Linked DNA regions of Homo sapiens. The gene in region 1 interacts genetically with each later gene. Each region holds a gene or a part of one and is shown on either strand. Other genes may lie near its edges.

Region 1 (4,159 bases):
AGTCAATTGATTTTTGACAAGGGTGAAGACAAACATTGTAGAAAGAAGTCTTTTTAACATATGATACTGAAATAATTGGATATCTACCTGCAAAGAATCAGGTTGGACACCTTCCTTACACCATATACAAAAACTAATTCAAAGTGGATCACAGACCTAAATGTAAGAGCTAAAACTATAAAATGCTTAGAAGAAAACACAGAGGTTTACCTTCACGGGCTTAGCAAAATGGGAGGCCGAGGTGGGCAGATCGCTTGAGGTCAGGAGTTTGAGACCATCCTGGCCAACATGGTGAAACCCTGTTTCTACTAAAAATACAAAAATTATTTGGGCATGGTGGTGCGTGCCTGTAATCCCAGCTCCTCGGGAGGCTGAGGCAGGAGAATTGCCTGAACCTAGCAGGCGGAGGTTGCAGTGAGCCGAGATCTCACTACTACTGCATACTGCATGCCAGCCTGGGCGACAGAGCGAAACTCTGCCTCAAAAAAAAAAAAAAAAAAAGAATGAAGTACTAATATATGGGCTGCCACATGGGTTACCCTTGAAAATGTGTTAAGTAAAGAAGTCAGCTCCAAAAGACCACATATTATATGATTTAATTTATAGGAAATGCCCCTAGATTTTTTAGTGGTCACCCAGTGGAGAGGAGTTGGTGGCAAATGGCAAATGATTGTTAATGAGTTCAGTTTTCTTGGGGGGCAATAAATTGTATTAAAACTGTTTGTCTATACTAAAACCACTGAATGGCATACTTTATTTTTATTTTTGAGTTGGAGTCTTGCTCTGTCACCCAGGCTGGAGTGCAATGGCACAGTCTTGGCTCTCTGCAACCTCTGCCTCCTGGGTTCAAGCGACACTCGTGCCTCAGCCTCTCGAGTAGCTGGGACTACAGGCACGCACCACCACACTCAACTAATTTTTGTATTTTTAGTAGAGATGGGGTTTCACCATGTTGGCCAGGGTGGTCTTGAACTCCTGACCTCAAGTGATCCGCCAGCCTCAGCCTCCCAAAGTGCTGGGATTACAGGCATAAGCCATGGCGCCCAGCCAAATGGTATACGTTAAATGGGCAAATTTGGCATGTGAATATCTCAATAAAGATGTTTCAAAAAAAGTAGACAGTAAAGGCATTATCAAATGATTAACAGAATTATTAATTCTATTTAGTTCATTGAGTGGACATTATTTATATCCGAAGCATGATGTTGAACTCTAGAGATACTACAAACATTACTAATATGTAGTCACTTTTCTTAAGAAACTTTGTATACTAGAACCTCGTAAGTGGCTAGAAAATGAAATCTAATAAACTGGGTATTTTCTTAGATCCCAATTAAGGAATTCAAATTAACAAACTACTTCATTACAAAATATTTTCTATAATGAATCAAATCCCAAGGACGATATTAAAGAGGTCCAGGCCAGGGGCAGTGGCTCACGCCTGTAATCCCAGCACTTTGGGAGGCCAAGGCGGGCAAATCACAAGGTCAGGAGTTTGAGACCAGCCTGACTAACATGGTGAAACCCCGTCTCTACTAAAAATACAAAAAGCAGCCAGGCGTGGTGGCATGCACCTATAATCCCAGCTACTCAGGAAGCTGAGGCAGGAGAATCGCTTGAACCCAGGAGGTGAAGATTGCAGTGAGCCGAGATTGTGCTATTGCACTCCAGCCTGGGCAACAAGAGTGAAACTGTCTCAAAAAAAAAAAAAAAAAAAAAAAGAGGTCCAAGTAGAATTGAGATACAGTCCTCTTTCACGTTTCTCAATTCAACAAAAAGGTTTTGAACATCTATGTGGAATGTACTAGGTAACAAACACAATTTAATCTTCACTTTATACCATTTTTCTAAAAATGTTGTAATACCTGGTTCTCTTTTCTGTTTCTTTTCTAATCTTTGTTTTAGGCCTTCTAGTTCCACACCATCTTCTTGAGGGCTTCCTTCAGTATTTTCATTCTAAAAGATAGCAAAGTTAGGGTTGGATATAGAATAAATTCTGAACTATGGGATTAGAGATTTTATACATTTTTGGCTGGGAGCGGTGGCTCACGCCTGTAATCCCAGCACTTTGGGAGGCCGTGGTGGGCAGATCTCTTGAGGTCAGGAGTTCGAGACCAGCCTGGCCAAGATGGTGAAACCCCATCTCTACTAAAAATACAAAAATTAGCTGGGTGTGGTGATGTGCCCCCAACTACTTGGGAGGCTGAGGCACGAGAATCGCTTGAATACGGGAGGCGGAGGTTGCTGTGAGCTGAGATCCTGCCATTGCACTCCAGCCTGGGTAACACAGCGAGACTCCATCTCAACAACAACAACAAAAAAATTTTATACATTTTTTTTTCAATTTTAAGTGGACATATGCATCAATATTTTATGCATAATATTTTTAAGAGTATTACCTCTTTTTTTTTTTTGAGATGGAGTTTTGCTCTGTTGGCCAGGCTGGAGTGCAGTGGTGTGACCTTGGCTCACTGCAACCTCTGCCTCCCGGGTTCAAGCGATTCTTCTGCCTCAGTCTCCCGAGTAGCTGGGATTACAGGCGCCTGCCACCATGCCCGCCTAATTTTTTTAATTTTTAGTAGAGACAGGGTTTCAACCATGTTGGGAGGCTGGTCTTGAACCACTGACCTCAAGTGATCCACCCACCTTGGCCCCCAAAGTGCTGGGATTATAGGTGTGAGCCACCACAAGAGTATTACCTTAATTTTCTTTTTATTTTTCTTTTCTGCCTCTGCTTTCATTTCTATGGTTATTCGTGGAATGACTCTTTGACCACGCGGAGAAGGCAAAACTTCAGCCATTTGTGTTTTTTTCCCCTTGGCCTTCCCCCCTTTCCCAGGAAGTCCGACTTGTTCATCTTGTTTTTCCTTGGCTTCAACAGCCTACAGAAGGGATATAAGAAAGCAAGTTTAAATGTTAACAAAAACATTACAATATCTAAACACCCAACAGTTAAACTGATTTCATTTTGTTACATCTTAAAAACTAGTGATAAATTGCTCCATAACCTAGTATACTATCAACAATAGTGAAGATGTAATTAAAACACACCTTGAAAAGGAAGGTGTGGAGACAGAAGGACTGGGTTTTATTCCTGATTCTACCACTTAACCTTTTTGAGGAAAACAAGGGAGAAACTAAAAATAAAACATGTATATACATATATATTTGTAAACTCACATACAAAATATGAAAGGAAGTGATGCACACTTATCCAACCAACTGATTACAATGAGCTAGGCATCTATACTGAAGTGCAGTAATACAAATTTGCATGTTAAATTTAAGAAATAAAGCTTTTGGTGGTTTTTTTTTTGTTTTTTTTTTTTTAAGAGACACGCAGGCTGAGTACAATGGTACATGATCATAGTTCACTGCAGCCTTGAACTCCTGGTCTCAAGTGATCCTCCCACCTTGGCCTCCGGAGTAGCTGAGACTATAGGCCCACACCACCATGCCTGGCTATTTAAAAAAAACATTTTGTAGAGATGAGGTCTTGCTACGTTACCCAAGCTGGTTTTGAACTCCTAATCTCAAGTGATCCTCCTGCCTCAGCCTCCCAAAGCACATTGGGATTACAGGTGTGAGCCACAGTGCTGGCCTTTTTTCTTATGTTAAAATAATGTTGAGAAACAAATGTTATTAGGAAGATTTAAGTAACAAATAACCTTCTGAAACCATCTGGATAGCCCTGCTTTCTCCTTTTTTTTTTTTTTTTTTTAGATGGAGTCTTGCTCTGTCACCCAGGCTGGAGTACAGTGGCGCAATCTCGGCTCACTGCAACTTCTGCCTTCTGGGTTCAAGCAATTTTCTTGCCTCAACCTCCTGAGTAGCTGGGATTACAGGCGGATGCCACCACACCCAACTAATTTTTGTATTTTTAGTAGAGACAGGGTTTCACCATGTTGTCCAGGCTGGTCTCGAACTCCTGACCTCAAGTGATCTGCCCACCTCAGCCTCCCAGAGTGCTGGGATTACAGGCATGAGCCACCATGCCCTGTGGCTTTGTCCTTTTAAGTTGACTTGGGGGACTGGGTTGGTGGTCTTCTTCCACATTTAGGCTCTTTTTATCTTCTCAGTCCTAATATGTTCTTCCCTTTATCAAAAATCAACTCCTGCTCTTTTCTTTTTTTGTCCAGAAATGTCTGAATGTCTGGGC
Region 2 (3,829 bases), about 22 Mb from region 1:
CTGGCCCCTGGTGGGACCAGGTAGTTCCTCCTTGCCCAAGGTGGTTTGGAATGAAACCTCCCTGGACCTTGGTTCAAGGTGCTGCCCTGATCTGCCTTTTGGCCTGGAACTGAGCTCTACCAAACCCCAGGGCTCCACCCGCCCAGCCTGCCTGCCCTGGGACTGGAAAATCTGGGCTGGCCCACGCTGAGCTGCCCAGGGAAGGTGCCAGAGAGCCCAGCGTGGGCCTGGCGGGCGCTGACGTGCCCAGTGACTCAGGTCTCAACTTCCTGCCCTGCCCCCACTCCCGCCTGTGCTGGGACCCTCAGGCCTCTGACTCTGGTGTGCCCTTCCCTGCTGAAGAGCTTGCCGTGGCTTTCAGGGCTGCTGGAATGAGTCTCAACCACCCCCACAGTCACACACCTCTCACGCCCTGGCTCTGGGCTTTCACCACCGCCTGGGGCCCTGCTTGGACTCTGCAGCTGTGTCCCAAGGCTGCGCCCTAGATTTGTCTACTCCTTCCCCTGCCCCCTCCCTGCTTTCTCCCGGCCTCTGTAGTCTTCCTGCTCCTCCACCTACGTGGCTGCCTTGGGCCCCATGCAGCTCCTCCCCCGGGATGCCCCATGCTCTGTTCTGTGACTGCCTTACTCTTGATCACCTCTGATGGCTGCTCCAGTGCAGGCAGAACCCCCAAAGTCCTCTGTTCTCTACATGTCCCCCTTTGCCACCTCCTGTTAATCAGGGTGGTCATTTCCACCTTGTTTGGTTTAAAGGCTCCAGGTGCATATGGTGCATGTGGCCTGGCCTATAACAGGTGCACAGTGTACCTGTGCTGTCTACAGTAGGTGCCTATTGTTTTTTGTAAAAGTAGGATTCCGGTCAGTGTTTGGCACGTGCAGTAGGTGCTTAGTGAGTGGTTATCAGATGAGTGAATGGAGGGGCGTGCAGGCCTCCCAGGAACTCGGGTAGCCCTGACATCTGCCCTCCCTGCAGCCATGAGGACGGCACCGTGAGGTTCTGGGATGCCTCGGGTGTGGCGCTGCGGCCGCTCTATAAGCTGAGCACAGCTGGCCTCTTCCAGACAGACTGTGAGCACGCTGACAGCCTGGCCCAGGCTGCCGAGGACGACTGGCCACCCTTCCGCAAGGTGGGCCCCTCCCCTGGCCCTGATGAGCTGGTCCTGACCCCGCCTGGACTCATTACTCCTTCCCATCCCTCTAGGTGGGCTGCTTCGATCCCTACAGTGACGATCCCCGGCTTGGCGTGCAGAAGGTTGCTCTCTGCAAGTATACAGCCCAGATGGTGGTGGCTGGCACTGCAGGCCAGGTAGGGCTGGGTGTCCCCTGGGTTGGAGATGTCAGGGAGGGCTTTCTGGAAGAGATGAGCTGGAGGGTCTGGTGGAAAGGGAGATGGACTGGCACAGGCAAAAGCCAAGGTGGGAATAGGGCTCTGGGTGGGGCTGGCTGGGGTGAGGACAGATGGGAAGTGGGCCTGTCGCTGGGGGAACCACAGTGTTGAGAGGAGGGAACTCATGTCAGTGCTGTGCTCCGGCACTCACATGACATACAGGAGGTGCTCAATGTGTCCTTATTGCTAAATGGGAGATAGAGGCTCAGGGTAAGGGTGGACACTTTGCCCTCAGAGGGCAGGGACTAGTGTGTCTTGGTCACCACTGTGTTCCTTGTGCTCAGCCAGGGCCTTGGTATACAGTAGGCATTCAGTGAGTGCTTGTTTAGCTGATGAACTGAAGACAGTCCTAGAACCACCTTGGTGGTGGCTGGGGCTGCTTCAGAGGCTCCAGGCTGAGTGGGGCCCAGGGCGGCCCCTCCCCTGCGCTGATGCTCCCCCTGCCTGGCTGTGGGCTCAGGTGCTGGTACTGGAGCTTAGTGATGTGCCGGTGGAGCAGGCGGTCAGCGTGGCCATCATAGACCTCCTCCAGGACCGCGAGGGCTTCACATGGAAGGGCCACGAGCGGCTGAGCCCACGCACGGGGCCGCTGCCCTGGCCTGCTGGCTTCCAGCCCCGTGTCCTGGTGCAGTGCCTGCCGCCAGCTGCTGTAACCGCTGTCACACTCCACACCGAGTGGAGCCTCGTGGCTTTTGGCACCAGTCATGGCTTTGGCCTCTTCGACTACCAGCGCAAGAGCCCTGTGCTGGCCAGGTGTGTGGGGTGGGGCCGGCTGGGCAGTTGGAGCCCCCAGCGAGATGGGGTCTGGGCTTCCGTTTCCACCTCTAGTGTTTGGTGTGGCAAAGGCCACTAACCTCCATTGCCCTATAAGAAATAACCTGGCAGCTCCAAGAAGGACATTCTCAGTACCACCTGCAGCTGGGTCCATAGGACTGCGCCAGAGGGGCTGTGACTCCCTGACCTGGGTGCCTCCACAGGCCAGCAGGAGTGTGGTGGCTGCCCCAGGAGGCTGCTCTATAGCACGACTGGACCCTGTCTTCCCCCAGGTGCACTCTTCACCCCAATGACTCCCTGGCCATGGAGGGTCCGCTCTCCCGGGTGAAGTCTCTCAAGAAGTCACTGCGCCAGTCTTTCCGGCGCATTCGCAAGAGTCGTGTCTCTGGCAAGAAGCGGGCTGCTAATGCCAGCAGCAAGGTGAGCTGGGGTGGGCTGCACAGGAGCTGTGCCTGTGTCCTGTGCCTTGGCCTGGCTCTGGCCTGGGACCCCTGGGGCCTGCTTAGCTCAGTGCTCCTCCCTCGGCAGCCCCTGGGCCCTCCAGAGGGATGGGTGAACTAAGCTGGGTGGTAGAGGAATGGTAACAGAACGTAGGGCGCAAAGCAGGATGCAAGCCACTGGGGTGCTAGGGAGACAGTGTTCAGGAGCCCCCGCCCGGCAGTTGCAGGAAGCCAATGCACAGCTGGCTGAGCAGGCCTGCCCCCACGACGTGGAGATGACGCCCGTGCAGCGCCGCATTGAGCCCCGCTCTGCCGATGACTCCTTGTCGGGTGTCGTGCGTTGCCTATACTTTGCCGACACATTCCTTCGAGATGGTAAGGCAGGGGCAGGGGCAGGGACAGGGCAAGGGTTGGGGGGGCTGGCCTCAATTGGCCACCTGGGAGATGGGTGGTGGCAAGGGAGGTGGTGGGACTGCACCTTCCAGGAGGTGGCTGGGCACGGTGGCTCAAGCCTGTGAGTGATCCCAGCACTTTGGGAGGCCGAGGTGGGCGGATCACCTGAGGTCAGGAGTTTGAGACCCGCCAGGCCAACATGGTGAAACCTCGTCTCTACTAAAAATACAAAAATTAGCCAGGTGTGGTGGCGGGCGCCTGTAATCCCAGCTACTTGGGAGGCTGAGGCAGGAGAATTGCTTGAACGTGGGAGGCGGAGGTTGCAGTGAGCCGAGATCGTACCACTGCACTCCAGCCTGTGCAACAGAGTGAGACCTTCTCAGAAAAAAAGCTTACCATCCAGCTCTCCCAGGGGGACTGCTGGGTCACCCCCAGTCTCTCTGGGGGAGCTGGATGGTAAAGGATTTTTGAGTGAGCTGGGTGGGCCTCTCAGATCTGAGCCAGGAGAAGGGAGGTTGAGGCCTGGTGGATGACGGTGAGGGGCACCAGCCAGTGCCCAGGCCCCGAGCCGGGCATGTGTGTGGGCAGCTGCCCAGCCACTTGGCTGGAGTGGAGCAGGTGAGGGTCGAGGTGTGTGGTTCAGGGAGATACTGCTGCTGGCCAGAGGCTGAGGACCTGGCTTTGATTCTCAGTGGCCTGGGAGCCCTGGGAAGGTCCTGGATTTGTTGATTGAGTCACTGATTGATTTTGAACTTGTACAATGGGAGAGTTTCAAACATACACAAAAATAGAGAGGTGCAAAGTTGTCCCACATACCTCACATGCCTGCCACCAGC

The links. A genetic interaction does not mean that the proteins touch.
Region 2: changes in TOP2A (region 1) and LLGL1 are lethal when combined (synthetic lethality), as found in Homo sapiens cells (one large-scale study listed by BioGRID).

Annotation. Positions count from the first base shown.
Region 1 is NC_000017.11:40,393,584-40,397,742, forward strand, and holds part of TOP2A (DNA topoisomerase 2-alpha), read right to left. Parts: intron 2,883-4,159; coding exon 2,700-2,882; intron 1,957-2,699; coding exon 1,866-1,956; intron 1-1,865. UniProt on the Homo sapiens protein: Key decatenating enzyme that alters DNA topology by binding to two double-stranded DNA molecules, generating a double-stranded break in one of the strands, passing the intact strand through the broken strand, and religating the broken strand.
Region 2 is NC_000017.11:18,235,635-18,239,463, forward strand, and holds part of LLGL1 (lethal(2) giant larvae protein homolog 1), read left to right. Parts: intron 1-972; coding exon 973-1,126; intron 1,127-1,200; coding exon 1,201-1,305; intron 1,306-1,846; coding exon 1,847-2,139; intron 2,140-2,432; coding exon 2,433-2,580; intron 2,581-2,821; coding exon 2,822-2,975; intron 2,976-3,829. UniProt on the Homo sapiens protein: Cortical cytoskeleton protein found in a complex involved in maintaining cell polarity and epithelial integrity. Involved in the regulation of mitotic spindle orientation, proliferation, differentiation and tissue organization of neuroepithelial cells.